Regions from separate parts of the Homo sapiens genome. Here region 1 is linked to region 2. Evidence: fine-mapped expression QTL. Tissue or cell type: whole blood. Region 2 holds a variant in brackets; the other region holds the start of a gene. All regions are shown on one strand. Distances are from middle to middle. Region 1 holds the start of ANKRD13C (ankyrin repeat domain 13C). Region 2 overlaps ANKRD13C (ankyrin repeat domain 13C).

Evidence for each region. PIP is the estimated chance that this variant, and not a neighbour inherited with it, causes the effect.
Region 1: it holds the start of ANKRD13C, and the variant in region 2 is the best candidate, but not a certain one, in a credible set for the expression of ANKRD13C in whole blood (INTERVAL, PIP 0.52).

What each region holds. Positions count from the first base shown.
Region 1 is chr1:70,348,996-70,359,154 of GRCh38, forward strand. It overlaps ANKRD13C (ankyrin repeat domain 13C), which reads right to left and starts at 5,727. Exons shown (of 13, transcript NM_030816.5): 1 at 4,984-5,727. The coding sequence starts at 5,413. ANKRD13C-DT (ANKRD13C divergent transcript) reads left to right here and starts at 5,816. Exons shown (of 4, transcript NR_168352.1): 1 at 5,816-6,213. RefSeq lists enhancers at 4,134-5,333, 4,593-5,511, 5,467-5,516, 5,512-6,429, 5,557-5,616 and 4 more.
Region 2 is chr1:70,310,425-70,320,694 of GRCh38, forward strand. It overlaps ANKRD13C (ankyrin repeat domain 13C), which reads right to left. Exons shown (of 13, transcript NM_030816.5): 4 at 5,057-5,142; 5 at 3,321-3,366. Among named protein-coding and RNA genes, the nearest start is that of ANKRD13C, 39 kb to the right of the region's middle. The variant T/TA (reference allele first, on the strand shown) is at 6,096.

The DNA of each region.
Region 1 (10,159 bases), 39 kb after region 2:
ACTAGCATCCAAGAGAAGCTGCTTAGCTTCTTAAAGACATTTAACTCAAAGGAAAAAACAAAATTACAAGTCTAACCAATCAGAAGTACAGTCAAACCAAGAAAATCTTCTATACGTTTCATATTCTCAATTCTCAATAAGTAAAATTATTATCAATTATAAAAAATGTCTTGTCATCATGATCCTTTGCCAAACTATCAATGGCAAAAATTGATTCAGAAAAATCCTTACACTCTGACTATGGAAAAAGGCTTAGATTCAATCTTTTAATTTTACACTAAAGAAAAAAGTGGTATATAACCAAAGATAGAGTTCCATAATTTTGTGTACTTTTAATATTTCTTCCCCACCCAAAAAACAGCTGTTATTAAGTGATGAGTCACAATCATTTGGCATATTTGAATACAACATATACATGATTTTATAGCTGTTACTGTACTTAAACATACCTCAAGAAATATGTTTGGACCCAGAATACAATACTTCACAAAATAATTGATGACTCAAAAAAAAAAAAAATTCCTACTCAACCAATATTTTACCACAAAAGTAAAAGCTCTATCCTTTCTTCTATTCAATTTAAGTCAGTAACTTGCAAATGCACACACACACCAAAAATTTTACCAAATCAGTGATAGTTTAAACTGAAATAGCTTATGAACTGAACTAAATAGTGACCAAATCAGGATTCAACAAGTTCTCCAGGTACAATAAAGGACCAAAACTAACAAAATAAAATGTAATAGCTCTAAAGTCCTGCGTTGAGGTTAAAAAAATAAATAAATACAAGAAGGGATAGAATGGAAAGACAGCAGATCACTTGAGAAAAAAACATAATTAAAAAATTAACATACTCTTGGCCGGGCATGGTGGCTCATGCCTGTAATCCCAGCACTTTTGTAGGCTGAGGTGGGCAGATCACTTGAGGTCAGGCGTTCCAGACCAGCCTGGCCAACACGGTGAAACCCTGTCTCTACTAAAAATACAAAAATACAAAAATTAGCCGGTGTGGTGGTGCATGCCTGTAGTCCTAGCTTCTCAGGAGGCTGAGACAGGAGAATTGCTTGAACCCAGGAGATAGAGGTTGCAGTGAGCCAAGATTGCACCACTGCACTCCAACCTGGGTGACAGAGTGAGATTCCATCACAAAAAATAATAAATTAATTAACATACTCTTGCACTGCATAACTAAGTATATGCTGCTTTACAGCAATATAGTCTCCCTGTTGTCTTTGCTCACAAGGCTAATATATCTCCAGCAATAAGGTTAGTTCTGGGCACCATCTTCTAAGGGAAGAATTAACAAACAAGTTCTACTAAACGATGATGATGAAGATTTTCATTTACTTATTTAACACACATATAGTATTCACTATGTTTCAGGGACTATTCTAAATACTTCACAAACAATGTGATGAGGAATGGATACAAAAGTTAGGAATATTTAACCTGAAGGTAATCTTGCCAAATATCTAAAGGGCTATCATGTGGACAAAGTAGCCCATTTATTTGGGCCGTTATATAAAAAAGAAATAACAAACAAGGCTAAGAGATCTGGGCTCCACAGAAAAACCTGAGCTGTCCAATGGTAGAATCTCTTTACAAGACTCTTGTACGGAACAAATGAGAAAAAAATATATTTAAAAAATACATTAAAGAACTTTGCTATAAAACACCAAACGCACATTATGAGAATTGACTTCCTTGCAATATAGAGGGTCCTAATCAATAGAAATACTTACAAAGAGGTTCATGATATGCTTTGGAGTCCTTGCTATGATTTATAGCTTTGAGATTTATACTATATAACTTTAGTGACGTTTCCTTGCCTCTCTAGGCTTATTTTTCTTATTTTTAAAATGAGTGTAAAACTATCTGCTTTGGACTTGGCACGGTGGCTCACGCCTGTAATCCCAGCACTTTGGAAGGTTGAGGTGAGTGGATTACCTGAGGCCAGGAGTTTGAGATAGGCCTGGACAACACGGTGAAACCCAGTCTCTACTTAAAATACAAAAATTAGCCAGGCATGGTGGCACACGCCTGTGGTCCCAGCTACTCAGGAGGCTGAGGCAGAAGCATCACTTGAACCCGGGAGGCAGAGACTACAGCAAGAGCAGATCATTCCACTGCACTCCTTTGCAGGGCTGCTGTGAGGATTAAATGTTACAATGTATGTAAACACTTAGCACCCTGCTGACCCACTGGATAAATTGTGTCTATAATAAGGACAATAATCATCACTGTCATCATCATGTTGTGAAAGGAATCCTTACGGTGAACATAAAACTATGTAATACATGGTATAATTGTCTGGCTCTGCTATGTACCTGTATGAGTGTCTTATTCTGCTATGCATTTATGTTAAAGCAATCCAAAGAGAATATACATCATTTATTTATTTATTTTATTTTATTTATTTATTGAGACGGAGTCTCACTCTGTTACCCAGGCTGGAGTGCAACGGTGCGATCTTGGCTCACTGCAACCTCAGCCTCCCAGGTTCAAGCGATCCTCCTGCCTCAGCTTCCCAAATAGCTGGGATTACAAGCATGCACCACCATGCCAGGCTAATTTTCATATTTTCAGTAGAGACGGGGTTTCACTATGTTGGTCAGGCTGGTCTTGAACTCCTGACCTCAGGTAATCCACCCACCTCGGCCTCTCAAACTGCTGGGATTACAGGTGTGAGCCACCGCACCTGGCCAAGCTTGCTGTTGTTTAAGTGATTTTATAAGTATTTATCTTCTATAATTTTAAAGCAAAAATATCCTAAAAATCTAAAAGCATCCAGGTTAGTAAAATGTCAAGACTAAAAGTAATAATGTATCAGAAAAATCTATGAGGCTATGGGAGAAAAAATGACTAAATAAGAAGCACATTAAATTGAAGCCACAGTTCCTAGGACACCTCACTGTAGGAGATGAGCATGTACACATTGCAGGGGGGAAAGCAATTATATTTACCCCAGGTATGTGAACCACCGGTTACATTAATCAGAAACATCAATGATATAAGGTCAGCTAAACACAATAAAAACCTTCCTTTAAAAAAGTGAATTTCAAGGCCAGGCGCGGTGGCTCAGGCCTGTAATCCCAGCACTCTGGGAGGCCGAGGCGGGCAGATCACGAGGTCAGGAGATGGAGACCATCCCGGCTCACACAGTGAAACCCCGTCTCTACTAAAATTACAAAAAAATTAGCCTGGCGCGGTGGTGGGCGCCTGTACTACCAGCTACTCAGGAGGCTGAGGCAGGAGAATGGCGTGAACCCGGGAGGCGGAGCTTGCAGTGAGCGGAGATTGCACCACTGCACTCCAGCCTGGGCGACAGAGCAAGACTCCGTCTCAAAAAAAAAAAAAAAAAAAAAAAAGTTAATTTCAGTGGGCTAAGGACAAGAGTTTAAGAGTATACAGGATTCTAATTACTTTGAACAGAATTTGAACTTAAACAAATGTACTCCTAAATGTTGGGTTGAAGAAGACATGGAAGCCCAACAATCCTGTAATTCAATAGCTTCAGTGATATTCATCCATCTCTTCTTTCAAAGGGAGTTAACTCTCAAACCTTTTATCTGTTTCAGGGATATTTCAAGGTAATGTAACTATGGCTACTATGTAAACCAAATTTGAAAAACTTCCTCATAATAGACTAATAAACTGAAGCTACAACCCATCTCCCACTAACAACTGTTTTCCAAAGGGCTAGCATAGAATTACCATCATCAACAAACAACATTATCCTTGTACTATAATAGTAAAATGATTAAGTAATTTAAATGTAGGAAAGAAAAACTGGCTGCAACTTTAACATACTTTTTTGGGGATTTATGATAAATGATAGGTGGTGATTTTATTACAATTACAACATTGTAAATTCTGAAAACAAATGCAGTTGTTAGATAATTATACAGCCAAGAGAAATCTTACTCGTTTTTTTTATCTGAATTTTTGTCCTAAAAAGCCTACGATCCAATGGAATTAAGTGAGCTTATTTCACAGGCAAATATTTCATTGATACGTATATCATTTTGAGCACAAAGTTGGTTCAGTGTGTTCTAACTGAATGTATACAATTTTCATATTAATAGCAGAGCGATCAACAATATTTGCCAACTACCCAGTTTAAAACGGCTATTAAATGTTAAAATGTCAGTGTTCACATTAGTCTTCAATAATAAATTTACTGTTGCTTAAAAGTCAACTCAGTCACATTATTTTTTAGAATTAAACAAAAAATTCAGCTGACAAGGCAAAAAGAAATGGTCAATATTGACTAAGATAAAATTACCATAAAAATCATAATACTATTTTTAGTCACAGTCATCAAGATGAGACATTACTATTAGCAATTATCTACTTAAAACAAGCAAAAAATCAAATCTCTACTCAAACAAAAATCGGCTGTTGAGAAGTCACTTTAACTGTTCTACGTATCAAATACCAACAAATTTCTACTGTGTGGCTTTCAGAAATCTAACATTCTAAGTTTACTGAAAGCAGACAAAAAAGAAACAACCTGGTGGCAGGCAAAATCACAACCAGTTGCAGTCAAGATGGGATCTGTATGTGAGCAATGAAGGGAGGAGGGCAATTTATGCGTTCAAAATTTAAAATGCCAAGGTAGGGGGAAGAGAGAGAAATAAAGATATATAGCTCCATAAACAAAGGGAGAAAACCATGTTGGGTGGGAGGCAACCTAAAATTTCTGACAGTCCAGAATCAGCAAATCGAAGGCCTGTCTCAAACAAAACAGCTTCTCACGACAAACTTTGAAGTGGGCAAGGAGGATACATTCCTTTGCACCCACAAGAACCAACCCCTTGACCACTGGCACGCTATTACTGAGTCGATCATGATTTACCGAACGGCCCGGATGATGGGCAAAAAGAAGAGTCTGCTGGAGGGGGCCTAGGATTCCAGAAGCCTGGGGAGGCACACCCTAGGCTCGGGGAAGGAGAGAGGTGGAGAGGGGCTAGCACTCCTCACCGTGATTATCTTTCTGCCCGATATTGTGCGTGCGGATGAGAGAGGAGAGTCTCCTCACATCCCCCTTGAAGACGCACTCGTGCACCGGGTAGTGTGCGGGGCAACTGCCTCCATCCGCGACGACAGCAACGGGGTTGGTGCCGGCCAGAAGGGCCGGGGACTGGGAGTTGGCAGTCACGGAGGAATTGTGCAGCGGCAGAGCCGGGGCGCCGGGGGGATTGGAGGAGGCCGGAGCTGCCTTCAGCTGTAGCCGGTGGTGATGGTTACTGAAGATCTTATGACAAGCTTTGCCGCCCTTGCCAATCCTGCTTCTGGTAAAGGTACCGCCGAGGGCAGCCGCCGCTTCCTCATCCCCGGGCTCCAGCAGGTCCCCTTCTTCTTTGCTGGGCTTGTGGTCCCTCCGCAGTGAGCGGATCTTCTCCCCGGTCATCGCCGCCGCCAGGGGCAAGGGGGGGAATCGGGAGGCTCACCGCTGGCGACGGAGCTGGCGCTGCGGCGGCACAAGGCGATTAGAGCGGTGGCCAAGAGCCTCCAGCGCAGCATGAACTCCCACTGAGCCCCCGAGCCTGGGACAAACGCATCTCCCGGGGAAGAGCCGGCTCTCGCCTAGGCACGAAGGGACGCGCGCTCGCTGGGGGAAGCTAGAACTCAGGTGCCCACGACACCAGGATCTCAGTCTCGCCGTCGCAGCCGCCGTCGCTGCCTTACACCGAAAAACAGGGCACGGCCATCTTCCTCTTGCTCCTCTCGCGAGAGCTCCCCCAGGAGTGAAGAGAGAGAAAACACCGCGATAAGTGAGCCACCCGCTCCCTCCCTCGCACCTTCTATTCCCAGAATCACTAGGCGCCGGCGCCTCCGAGGCAGTGTGTTTCCGCCCAGAGCTGGAGTCTCCCAGCTGCCAGCCGACCCCGAACCCGCACTCCCGCCAACCGCGCTTTTTGTGGGCGGTCGGAAACCACAGCCTCCGTTGGATATGTTCGGTGCATGTTATAAACAACCACTTAAACCCTCCGGATCTGAGCCTCCCGCAGAGGAATGCAGAATGACGCCACGGCACGCAGGATGTGATGTCACCGAGATGCAGAGGATACTCAGTCAACCAACATTTACTGAGCATCTACTTCGTGCCGTATGTACGAAGCTAGCAAATATGTACAGCACCAGTACTGATTGCAGGGAGCACTGTAGAAGAGGAATGAAGGCCAAACAATTAAAAGCGGAGGCGGGGAGGTGGGTTGCACACAAAAAAGGGAGGGACGAATTTTAGTGTTGAGTTGTCAGGAAAGTCATAGAAGAGTTTAGGTGCTGACTTTGGAAAATGATGGGCTGTCCAGCAATCGGAAAGAGGGGAGGCCACTCAAATATTTATTAGATGAATGAATTTCGGGCAGATGTCAGAGTTAACATATATGAGGGTGGGGACACTCAAGGAGGGCAAAGAATCGTGTAACTGAAATATAATTGTATTAGTTCATGGCCAACCTCAACCTAGTGTCAAACTCTGAAGAAACGTAAATCTGCCAACCATAAAACTTTAACAAAGTAACTAAAGCTGGCCACTGAGGACGTAAGGAGGGGGCTTAGCAAAACATCCTAAAGATCTTCACCCATTTAACTCTCCAAAGTCCCCCTATGTTCTGAGAGCAAATACTTCAGATCTCTCTCTCTTTTTTTTGTTTTTTTGTTTTTTTGACAGAGTCTCTGTAGTCCAGGCTAGAGTGCAGTGGTGCAATCTCGGCTCACTGCGACCTCCACCTCCCAGGTCCAAGCGATTCTCCTGCCTCAGCCTCCAGAGTAGCTGGGATTATAGGCCTGCGCCACCACACCAAGCTAATTGTTGTATTTTTAGTAGAGACGGGGTTTCACCGTGTTGGCCAGGCTGGTCTTGAACCCCTGACCTCAGTGATCCGCCAGCCTCAGCCTCCCAAAGTGCTGGGATTACAGGCATGAGCCACTGCGCCCGGCCAGATCTCTTCTTTCTTAAAGTTTATACTACTGCTAACTCATCTCCGCAAACAAACAACTCGATGGGCCTCTCTTAATCCTCCCCAGTCACTCAACTTTTCACCTCCAATTTTCTTCTCAGTCTGTTCAGATAAATCTGTTTCTTCCTCTTCTTTCTTTTTCGGTGGAGTGGAGAGTTCCGTTTATGTTAAAACATTACCCAATCAACAGTTCAAAGCATCCTCTTGAGACAGCAGTAGAGACTGAAAAAATACATGCAATAATGTTTGCTTCTTCCACAATAGCCAATATTTATTGTTAACGCTAAGCCAGGCAGTATGCTTGGCACTTTATATGCTGTTATCTCCCCCTGATTAGCATTAGTATCCTCACTTGACAGTTAAAAAAAACTTGCCCAATACTTCAATGCTAGAATGTGGTACAGTCAAATCTGACAGTAAGGCTAGAGAGAGAGGAAGGGCCAGGTCATGCAGGGCTTTGTATGTCATCTTAAAAGTTTACACTTGGCCGGGCGCGGTGGCTTATGCCTGTAATTCCAGCACTTTGGGAGGCTGAGGCGGGCAGATCACGAGGTCAGGAGTTCGAGACCAGCCTGGCCAATATGGTGAAACCCTGTCTTTACTAAAAATACAAAAATTAGCTGGGCGTGGTGGCTTGTGCCCGTACTCGCAGCTACTCGAGAGGCTGAGGCAGAAGAATCGCTTGAACCCAGGAGGCGGGGGCTGCAGTGAGCTGAGATTGTGCCCCTGCACTCCAGCCTGGGGACAGAGTGAGACTCTGTCCAAAAAAAAAAAGGAATAGTCTTTTTAGAGATCTTTAAACAGGGAATAGCATAATGCAATCACCTTTATAGAAAATTCAGTGACTCAGGCCGAACGCAGTGGCTCATGCCTGTAATCCCAGCACTTTGGAAGGCTGAGGCGGGTGGATCACTTGAGGTCAGGAGTTCAAACCAGCCTGGGCAACATGGTGAAACCCTGTCTCTACTAAAAATACAAAAATTAGCCGGGCATGATGGTGGGTGCCTGTAGTCCCAACTACTCGGGAGGCTGAGGCAGGAGAATCGGTTGAACCTGGGAGGTGGAGGTTGCAGTGAGCCAAGATCGTGTAATTGCACTCCAGCCTGGGTGACAAGAGCAAAACTTGGTCTCAAAAAAAAAAAAAAATTAAAAAAAAGAAAATTCAGTCACTCATACTTTAGAGAAGTATGCATCAAGAACAGAACTTTAAAGAAGTATGCAGTAAATCAGATGATGAGAGCATGAACCAAGTTAGTAAGAGTGAGGCAGAAAAAGGTTTAAGAGGTTTTTAAAAATGAGTTCAATCTTAGCATATTGAGTTGAAAGTTGCTTATCTGTAGGGAGTTAGATGTTCTACATTTTAGATATTTGCAAGTGATCCTTAGGTAACAGAGAACTAGGTATGGGCTGGATTCAGAAGTTATCATTACACAGTAATTAATGCTCCAGAAGTGGGTGAGTTCCCCAAAGAAAAGTTTATAGAATGAGAAATTAAGAAGGTCCATATAGAACAAAATCTTGAAAACACCAATATTCAAAGCGTGTGTATAGGGTAAGTGGCCAGCATCCTATTACTAAAAACCTACACCAAATAATATCCCGTTATACTTGTGAAGTATTCTATCACTAGAGTCTGAATTTGAAATTTCTTTATTAGTGGCTGTCACCCATGGATGTCACCCATGGAATGTGGAAACTCATAAGTATCCCTCCAGTAAAATCAAACACCATACATATCAAAAATAATATTCAGGCCAGGTGTGGTAGCTCATACCTGTAATCCCAACACTTTGAAAGGCCAAAGCAGGAGGATCACTTGAGGTCAGGGGTTTGAAACCAGCCTGGGCAACATAGTGAAACCCCATCTCTATCAAAAAATATAAAATATTAGCCACCTGTGGTGCTAAACACCTGCAGTCCCAGCTACTCAAGAGGCTGGGGTGGGAGATCCACTTGAGCCTGGGAGTCCAAGGCTGCAGTGAACTAGGATTGCACTACTGCACACCAGCCTAAGTGACAGGTATCCTGTCTTTAAAAATAAATAAATAAATAAATAAATATCATCCTTTTTTATTTTTTATTTTATTTTATTTTTGAGACAGAGTTTTGTTCCCGTTGCCCATGCTGGAATGCAATGGTGTGGTCTCAGCTCACTGCAACCTCCGCCTCCTGGGTTCAAGCAATTCTCCTGCCTCAGCCTCCCAAGTAGTTGGCATTACAGGTCTCCACCACCATGCCAAGCTAATTTTTGTATTTTTAATAGAGATGGGGTTTCACCATGTTGGCCAGGCTGAGTCTCGAACTTCTGACCTCAGGTGATCCGCCCACCTCGGCCTCCCAAAGTGCTGGGATTACAGGCATGAGCCACCACACCAAGACTTATTTTTTGTTGTTTTTTGAGTCTCATTTTGTCAGCTAGGCTGGAGTGCAGTGGCATGATCTCAGCTCACTGCAACTTCCACCTCCCATGCTCAAGTGGATCCTCCCGCCTCAGCCTCCCAAGTGCTGGGACTACAGGGCCCAGCTAATTTTTGTATTTTTTTGTAGAGACTGGGTTTGGCCATGTCACCCAGGCTAGTCTCAAACTCCTGGACTCAAGCCATCTACCCACCTCGGCTTCCTGAAGTGTTGGGATTACAGGTGTGAGCTACTGCCCCCAGCCCATTCATTATTATTATTATTTTTTATAGAGGCCGTGTCTCACTATGTTGGTCAGGCTGGTCTTGAACTCCTGGGCCCAGGTGATCCTTCCACCTCAGCCTCCCAAAGTGCTGAGATGACAGGTGTGAGCCACTGCACTTGGCCCCATCCATTATTTTTAAGGGCTTGTAAAAATGACAGAAATGTAAGATTACAATATATTATAAAAAAGATAGAAATATGATTGTAATACATTATGAAAAATACAAGGATTGAAATTATATAAGCTCCCAATACAATATAGAAAAGGAAGTCATTAATTCTATTTGGGGAAAATAGAAATTGGATGATCAGAAAAGCTTTCTGGGGCTGGGCGTGGTAGCTCATGCCTGTAATCCCAGCACTTTGGAAGGCCGAGGTGGGCAAGTCACTTGAGGTCAGGAGTTCAAGATCAGCCTGACCAACATGGTGAAACCCCATTTCTACTGAAAAATACAAAAAGAATCAGCCAGGCATGGTGACGTCTGCTTGTAGTCCCAGCTGCTCGGGAG
Region 2 (10,270 bases):
ATAGTTGTGATGTTAAATCACTATAATCCTTTATTAGCAATGAAACAGATGTGCTGACTTTTTGCATCAAAGTCAAATTCTCAAAGAAGAAATACTTTGGACAACTGTCTCAGTGGTTACTTGAGGAACTCAATTATGCAACATTTATAATGTATTGTTTATAACTATAGATATATACACAATTTTAGAAGTGATTGCATGTATTTATATTTTAGTATAATTAAAATATCACTTTTAAAATATTTTATAACATTTTGTTCAGCAATATACATTGATTATTTTAGAATTCAAACCACTAATGATTACTAAGAGAATCAGTTAAAAAGCCAAAATACTCAAGGGACAACCCAGTTTAGGATCACAAAGCAGGACTGGGGTCTCCCCACATGGGAAAAAAATGGGGTAAAAAAGACAGTATTCAGGTTTTAGGCCAATCTAACTTGGAGCTCCTTTACTACACAAGGCTACTATAAACCTGTTTTTCTATGTGTTCTAGGACACCAGGACTCCTGAATGATATATAAGGCATAAAAGCAAGATGGGACTATTAGAGTAACAAGACTGCATAATCATTAATAGAGACAAACTAGCCTGATGAGCTAGAGTTATAAAAATGTGAGAAAAAACTGATTAAATTTAGAATTTAAAATTCTCTATACAAGGATTAAACACACTAGAAAAACCTTAATCATCCATGCCATAAAGTATTATGTAGCTGTTAAAATTAGTGAAGTATTTCCACCTGAAATATGGTAAGATGCCTACTATGGGTTGAATAAAAATGATGGCTGGGTGTAGTAGCTCACGCCTGTAATCCCTACACTTTGGGAGGCCGAGGCGGGTGGATCATCAGAGGTCAGGAGTTCGAGACCAGCCTGGCCAACACAGTGAAAACTTGTCTCTACTAAAAACATAAGGCACATGCATGTAGTCCCAGCTACTCGGGAGGCTGAGGTGTTAGGATCACTTGAACCCAGGAGGTGGAGGTTGCAGTGAGCTGAGATCGCGTGACTGCATTCCAGCCTGGGTGATAGAGTGAGACTCCCTCTCAATAAATAAATAAATAAATGTCAACTTGCATAATGATATAACAGTATGATTCCATGGGAGAAAAAAAACCTAATTCTGAGGGGTTGTGTGTGCATAGCTATGTACACAAACACTTTAGTAAGCACTGAAAAGCATTTGAAAGTAGTCATACGAAATGTTAACAATAGTCACCTCTGGGAAGTGGTAACAGGGAAACTTAAAAATACCTGATTAATTTTCTATAATGTTCAAAACTTTTACAGTGAATATTCTATTAAAAATAGATTAAAATCTTAGTAAACTGAGGATAATTTTAGTATTAAATAACTTGTATTAGTCAAAGCTAACTAAAAAGCATAATACAATTTTTAGAAATGTATACAGATGTTATAAAATCAATGTTTAAAATTTACACAAGCTGTAATGTACATAAGCTGGAGAGGAAGTCTGATTTGTATCTAAAAGCTCCAAATAAAGAAGGCAGTTTATCAAAAATATAATTTGTAGAAAATTATTACTTGTTGAAAAGAGGCCAGATTCTTTCTCAAGACAGTAGAAAACTACTATTTTTTCATACAGTAGAGAGAAATAAGTGCTAATGGACTTCAGATTTATGGCTGCGTTTACTTTTTCAGAAGAAATCAGAAGATGTAAGAGAATTAGAAGAAATAACAAGTATAATTGTTAATTAAAGTTTAAATCTGGTAACTTCCTAGGCATTTTACTGCTATATGGTATATTGTATAATCTATTTTCTTACTGACGAGTTGAAGCTGAATTTGCAAACCCAAGTGTATTGTGAGAATATCATAACTTCCTCAAGGTTAACAAATATCAGAATGTAATGTTTTAAATTAAGTTGCATTTATTGACCTCCCATAGACTAGGCCTAAAACTGTGAAATTTCTATTACTGTTTTTTTTTTTTTTTGAGACAGAGCCTTGCTCTGGAAATCCCACTACAAATTGCCTGGGAAGAGCAGTAGCAGCACTGGATGGGGCTAAGTACTGTAAGTAATCTCCATTTCACAGTCTAGAATTTGTTTTTAAATGTATAGAGAAAACTATAGAGCCACAGAATGTAGAACTGAAAAGAAACAGATTTGCTAGTTCAAAATTCCTATTCTACTGACTTTGAATTCTTTGCCCAAAGTTCCTCATTTGGTATAATATGCATACGTGCCTGGGCGACAGAGTGAGTGAGACTCTGTCTCCAAAAAAAAAAAAAAATTAATTTAGATGCTTCAACAAAAACTCACATAAGCTCATTATGTCTAAACCTTTAGAGATTACATTTTTTTAAATCTTTAAAAACAACAAAATTTAGTTGTTTAGTTAGTAAAATAAAGGTCACTAGAATCAAATTTCATATTTGGATATGAAAGTTTTCTCTCTAGTGGACTCATGTTTAAAATGAGGAGAAAAACCTTGTTAAGGTAAGTCAATAAATGACTGCAAAAAAATCTAGGGCAAAATTAGGATCTTTCGTAAGTCACTGGAATCAATGTTCAACCAAACAGTATGTAAAGAAAGTGGCTATAAAGTATGCAAGAGGCAAAATAACGGAAAGACAACAAAATATACATAAACAAAAAATGTTAACTAAATTCTCCACATTCAGAGATCTAAGTACTAGATTTCAAACGTCCTTAAATTCAGTAGTCCCATAATCCCATAATTAATTTTCTTTTCTGAAAACTCCTTGCATTCTATTATTAAATTTTAAATGCTGTTTGTAAAACAAAATTTTTAAAACTAAAAGTGCCATTTTCAACCTTAAAAATATAAACTATTGGCCAGATGTGGTGGCTCACTTCTGTAATCCCAGCACTTTGAGAGGCCGAGGTAGGAGGATCGCTTGAGCCCAGGTGTTCTAGACCAGCCTGGGAAACACAGTGAGATTCCATCTCTACAAAAAATAAAAATAATTAGCCAGGTGTGACGGCATGTGCCTGTGGTCCTAGCTACTCAGGAGGCTGAGCGGGGAGGACTGCCTGAGCCCAGGGGTTCGAGGCTGTAGTAAGCTATGATCGTACCACTGCACTCCAGCCTGGGCAACAGTGAGAACTTGTCTCAAAAAAAAAAAAAAAAAGATTTATTAAAGTTACTAATCAAGTTGGAATAACTAAATATTATAGGGCTTTATAACGATTACAGTCAATGTCATGAAAAATACTTTTCCTCACAGCAAGTATTAAATTTGTTATCCTAACATTTCTATATGATAGGTATTTTTGTACTTGCATTTCTGCATAAGTACATATTTTATACTAAAACATAGCATACTCTTACCCCAGCTTTGAAAATCCCAGTGAAGTTCTAGATAAAAGTCACCTAGCTGAAAAATGAAATATGAATAATTACTAAATGCACCTTAGTTAAAAGTTCTTATGCTTTAAAAATATGGCTATTCCTTAAAACATTATAATACATGCATTACTATACTTAATTACAAAGGAAAATATGCACCTGTATATTTTATAATATTTTAATTACATAGTAACATATCTGAAACTGATAAGCATTTAAATTTGTATCAATAAATATTACACTTCCCAGTATAAACAAAATAACAATAATAATAAATATTATTTTTTAAATAGTTAACTTTAGAAGTGTTATTAAAAATTACTACCAAAATGATTATTTGTATAACCTCATAATGGCATTTAAAAAATGGCCCATTGTAATAGAAAATATTTTTCTGTAAAGGGATAATACAAGTTTATTAAATCTGAAACATGTCATCATATAATATCTATGAAAAAAAAATTTTTTTTTTTTGAGATGCAGTCTCACTCCATCGCCCAGGTTGGAGTGTAGTGGCATGATCTCAGCTCACTGCAACCTCTGCCTCCTGGGTTCAAGCAATTCTCCTATCCCAGCCTCCCAAGTAGCTGGGACTACAGGCGCCTGCCACCATGCCTGGCTAATTTTTTTTTTTTAATTTTTAGTACAGATGGAGTTTCACCTTTTTGGTCAGGCTAGTCTCGAACTCCTGACCTCAGGTGATCCACCCGCTTCGGCCTCCCAAAGTGCTGGGATTACAGGCGTGAGTCACCATGCCTGGCCGAAAAAAAATTTTATTTTGCAAATTAGAAGCTAGACACCAAAGATTATAACTGTTAAGAGTATATATTCTAAATATAAGTAGAGCATTACATATATAGCAACATCAACAAGTTAGTCTTTCTTTTTCAAAAAGTGATAAAAGTGAATGTTAATAGTAGATATCATTGCAATATGAGTAAAACATTTTTCTGGCTTTTTCTATATTTCTTAAGATCTAAAAAAAAAAAAAAGCACCATTAACAGAGACAAGCTATCATCATAATCATCATGACAGGTCTATCTTTCTCCCACAGTTCTTTCAGGCAGCAGAAATACAGAGAAGAGAGTAACAATAGAAAACAAACCACTCTCTTTTGTGTGCCAGCATACCCAGCTCTTACCACAAGGAGGTAGGACAGATAAAAAGAGTTTTTGTTACATAAAGAATATACAGGCCGGGCACGGTGGCTCACGCCTATAATCCCAGCACTCTAGGAGGCTGAGGCAGGCGGATTGCTTGAGCTCAGGAGTTTGATACCAGCCTGGGTAATATGGTGAAACCCCATCTCTACTAAAAATACAAAAAATTAGCTGGGCGACAGAGTGAGGCGCTGTCTCCAAAACAAACAAACAAAAAAAACTGCCACTTCTAGTAGCAATGGCTTTAGCTATAGAGAATCTTCTAATTCAAAGGCAAAGGAAAATTATTGCCATTAACTGTGACTTACCTCCTTTTTTTTTCTTTAGAGCTCTTATCTAATTTATTGAAAGTAATAAATCTTTATCTTCCTAGTTCAAACTGAGGTGCTTCTACTAAGATCACATTCATACACTAATTATTGCTTAATTTAAGCATGATTTTTACCATTTTTTGGCCCCTAATAAGTGAGAATTTAAGTTGTATTAAGAAAAAAATGCTTAAAACTACACTTATAATTACTTCCAAGGTGCAAAATTAACAAAGAAATATAGCTTACCTCTTTCAGGGCTTTTAATAATCGAGGTCGTTTTTCTTCAACACTTTCCCTGGATTGCTGCTTAAGCTTCCTCAAAAGAGCTGTAACTAAAGTTTAAATTTTAAAAATAACTAATTTAAATTTTCATCATGCAGTAAAAACACCACTGGCTTATTATACATATAGATAGATAATACATGTACACATATATGCACGTGCATGTATGTGTGTATGTGTATGTGTGTATCTACATCTACAATATATTTTGAAAGGCCAAAAATCAAAGAGCAATGTTTAAATTACTGAAGGCCTCTTGGAACAGTAAAAGAAGCTGAGACATAGAAGTCAGAGAACATGGGACCTATATAGATAGAATAAGTTAGTAAGTAAGTTTAATAAAACTGGTATGATCCCCAAAGAATAATGAGAAGAGATATTTCAACATCAACCTATACCATATTCACACTAGCTTTTACTAGTTTTTTAATTATCAGTAACGATTTACCTAACTGTGCCAAGATAACCAAACTCATTCAAATGATGCAATGTCCTAATAGAACACTGACCTCAAGGAAGATCTCAAAAACAACAGATCTCAAAAATCCCACTGGAAGCCACTTTTCTAAAAACATATAATTACCTGCAATTGTTACCAGGTGTTATCTGTTCTTTTACCACTGGAGGATATACCTTCACATACTACCAGCACAGTATAAAAAATACAAAAATGAATCTTATTGTACATGGAAAAAGAACTTCTGAATCTAAGAAAACCTAAAGGTCCTCCATAGTGTATTTTCAGTTACTGAGATTTAAGCACATTGCTGAAGTTCAAACCCCAGCTTTACCACTTAGTGGTTGTGGGTAAACTTGGACAAGTTACTACTTAATTTCTCTAAACTTCCTTTTTTTTTCCTCTCCTTTGTCAAGTAAGAATAGAAGTAAGGGCACAGTGGTCTGCACCTGTAGTCCCAGCTACTCAGGAGGTTAAGGTGAGAGGATCACTTGAGCTCAGGAGTTCGAGACCAGCCTGGGAAACATAGTAAGACCCCATCTCTAT[T/TA]AAAAAAAAAAAAAAAAATTAGCCAGGGCTTGATGGTGTGTACCTGTGGTCCTAGCTACTTGGGAGGCTGAGACAGGAGGACTGGTTGTGCCCAAGAGTTTGAGGCTGCAGTGAGCTATGACCACTGCACTCCAGCCTGGGTGACAGAGCAAGACACTGTGCCTGTAATTAACTAAATACAATTTTTATCTATTAGAATGAAGGTCTAAAATTCACTGGCAAAATCAATCAATTAATCCTTAATATTTACCAAAATAAGAAAAAATATTAGACTTGAATGAAATAAGCATAGGAAAAAATAAGAACATGGAAAAATGTGCATCGGGGAAAATATATACATATATACACGCTAGTTTCCTCCTGATTCTAACACATTTTTCATATACATACATATACATATGCGTTCTGAGGGCTTTTTAAAAATCAGTAAATTATTTTTACTATTTCACAGCATGCATTCTTATAAACCACTTCAAGTCCCATGTGGAACGCAGAAGCAGAAGGCGAATAAAAAAAGAAGGTAGTGAAAGCTTGGACTAGATTTTTTTTTTTTGTCCACATAGGTCCAAAATTAGGAAAAATCTAGGGAAGCATGTAAAAATAGTAGGAGCTATTCTTATTTTTAACCACAGGTCTAACTAAATTCCAATATATTTTAAAAAGCCAAAAATCAAAGAACAATGCTTAAATTACTGAAGGTGTCTCAAAATAATCAAAACTGAGACACAGAAATCGGAATGCAGGACCTAGTTTCAGTTCTACCATTTACTAGCTCGGTGACCTAAATCAATAATTCCCAAATACGAACCTACATTTCTGTGCCCAATTGTTTGAGTTTCCAATGATATACAGAAAATGAGAAAAAATGTGTACTAGAATGAGTTTTTTCTTAATAAATTTTTTTAAAGACTATTCTTCCTACTTTTGGTTTCAAATATCTTTTTTTTAAAAATAAAATGTGGATCACAAAAGACAGTAGTTATCGTTTTTATAAAGTTCTGATAGTCTAAGATGAAAAAGTTAGATTCCCTATATCAATCACCAGTAAAAAAAATTTTTCTGGTCTGTGAAATCCAAAAAGTCTGAGAATCAATGACTTAGATAATCATTTAAAGATTCAAGTATGAATCTGACAAACCTTCCTGTTCATTATAATTTAACTTTAATGTCAAAGTTATATTACTCAAATGTAGTACAATTCTTTTTAATGGTCATTGTTTTCTACTATAAGCTCAAGTACCTTAATAAATCTTATTCAATCTACCTTGCCTTCAGATTGAAATGGACCTCAGTTGAATGCAGAGAATGAAAAGAATTCAATTCCTAGATAAAAAGGGTCTTTCAATAAAAAGCAGAGGCTACATATTTTTTTATCAGCCTGATTTTATTAACTAAATATAATTGTAACTGACTGAAGGCATTCAGTAAATAATGACCAAACATCATTTAAAAAGCTGAAGGCATTCAATAAATAACGACCAAACATCATTAAAAAGGTAATGGCAACCACTGTATATAGCACAGTATAATAACATATGCGAAGAGATTCCCTTTTCTATATGACTTCATATTGAAAAATACCATAAACTCAAACTTCTTATGGATGCACATTCAGAAAGCAATTACACAAAATTACCAATTACCAGTATCCTTTTTAGGGATCAGTATTTGTATTCCCATATTGTAAGAATTTTATTAATACTGATTAACAATGAAGATTAAAATTAGCTTTAGAGGATTTAGGTGATAAAAGAATTCATACAAAGACTCAAATGCAAAAGTCCATAAACCACAACTAATTTTACTTTCTCCTTCCTCCTTCTCCGACTGAAGTTTACAGTTTGACCTAAAGCTTTTGGAACTATGCCCTACTGCTCCAAGTATTACTTAAATCTGTTACCTTTTGCACTCCTCTTCCTTCTAAGCTCCAATCTATTTCCTGCTTCCCACCTGGACAATTCTACCTGATGTACTACAGTTGATTCAAACCCAACAAATCTAACACAAATTAAAGACCATACTGCTCTTGCTCCTATAGTCTATATATCAATTAAGTAATGAAATCACCATCAATCCATAATAGAGACCTTAGAGTTACTCTGAATCATTTTATCATTACCCATATCCAAGAGATAATCCATTCTGTTAAATCAATCTTTGTTTTTTTTTTTTTTTTTTTTTTGAGACGGAGTCTCGCTCTGTCGCCAGGCTGGAATGCAGCGGCGCAATCTTGGCTCACTGCAACCTCTGCCTCTTGGGTTCAAGCTATTCTCCTGCCTCAGTCTCCAGAGTAGCTGGGACTACAGGTGTGCGCCACCATGCCCAGCTAATTTTTGTATTTTTAGTAGAAACAGGGTTTCACCATGTTGGCCAGGATGGTCTCGATCTCTTGACATCATGATCCACCTGCCTCAGCCTCCCAAAGTTCTGGGATTGCAGGCATGAGCCACCACGCCCGGCTAAACCTTTCTTTTAATTACTTTCTGATCTATCCCTTCCTTCTCTAAAAACACTATGTCTTTAAGTCAAGCTTACCTCATTTGTTCCAAAAATGTTTTGTTCTAAATATCTCTTGCCTCCCTGACTCCGCTGTATTAATTAGAAAGTCTTTTCACTTATCTAATAATAACAAGCCCTGCTTTGAAGTCTTCTGGGGTTTTGCAGAGACTGGAAATTGGGATTAAAATCTTGACTAGCACATAAAGCTGATATCAATGTGGTCCTTTTATCATTACAACTTCATTTCCCAACACTGGTCTTTGCCCCTTCATCCATCTTTGCCATGTATCATTAAGAAGCCAAATACAGGGGCACGGTGGCTCACACCTGTAATCTCAGCACTTTGGGAGGCCGAGCCGGGTGGATTGCCTGAGGTCAGGAGTTCAAGACCAGCCTGGCCAACATAGTGAAACCCCGTCTCTACTAAAAATACAAAAAATTAGCTGGGTGTGGTGGCGGGTGCCTGTAATCTCAGCTACTCGGGAGACTGGGGCAGGAGAATTGCTTGAATCTGAGAGGCGGAGGCTGCAGAGAGCCAAGATCGCGCCATTGCATTCCAGCCTGAGCAACAAGAGGGAAACTCCATCTCAAAAAAAAAAAGAAACCAAATACATATTGTTCCCTAGCATATGCCTTTTTTTTTTTTTAATATTTCCATGCTTTATACACATTCCACTCTCGCACAGTAGAATGCCTTTACCCACCTTTTTAACTTCTAAAACCCTTTGAGACAGCTTTAATAACCAAACACCTTGCTAAGAACCTGAATAACTTTTCCACTCATCTGTTTCCCCCAGGACTTTGTAAATACTTCAGAATGCCACAGAATATTCACTGGTCTCTCTCCCTTAAGTAGGATGACTTCCTCAATATCAAAGTTAATGGCACATCCTGACTATGTTTCTGACACATCTAGTAGGTATTCAGAACACAAATAGACAATTCCTGGCCTCATACACTCTGCCTAAAGGGAATGGGCAGAGTTCTGAGACAATATATGAGCAGAGAAAACTTCCTTGTACTTGAGCTGAGATCTGAAGAATCTTAAGGAGCTGTGACAAAAAGAGGGGGATATATAAGTATGAGGAGTATGAGAAACCAAAAAGCCAGCAGAGCTGACACATAGAAAGCCAGATGGAAAGAACAAGATGAGGAAGGAGACAAGGAAGTGATAGTATCATACTGGACCTTATAAACAAAGTTAGCAATTTTGGTCTTTGTCCTCAGAACAGGAGGTTTTAAAGAATTTTATGTAGAGAATAATATGACCAGAAGACGAAACTAAAATATAACAAAATATTAACAGTGGTTGTCTTTTTTTTTTTCTTGAGACAGGGTCTCACTTTGTCCCAGGCTCCAGGCTGGAGTGCAGTGGCACAATGTCAGCTCACCACAGCCTCAGCCTCCCAGGCTCAAGTGGATCCTCCCATCTCAGCTCCCAAGTAGCTGGGGCCACATACGCACATCACCATGCCTGGCTAATTTTTGTATTTTTTTGTAGAGACAGGTTTTTGCCATGCTGCTTAGGCTGGTCTTGAACTCCCAGGCTCAAGCGACCCACCTGTCTCGGCCTCCCAAAGTGCTGGGATTATAGGCATGCCCCACCACACCTGACCCAACAGTGGTTATCTTTGAGTGATATTATTTTCTTTTCTTTTCCCTATAATTCCTAATTT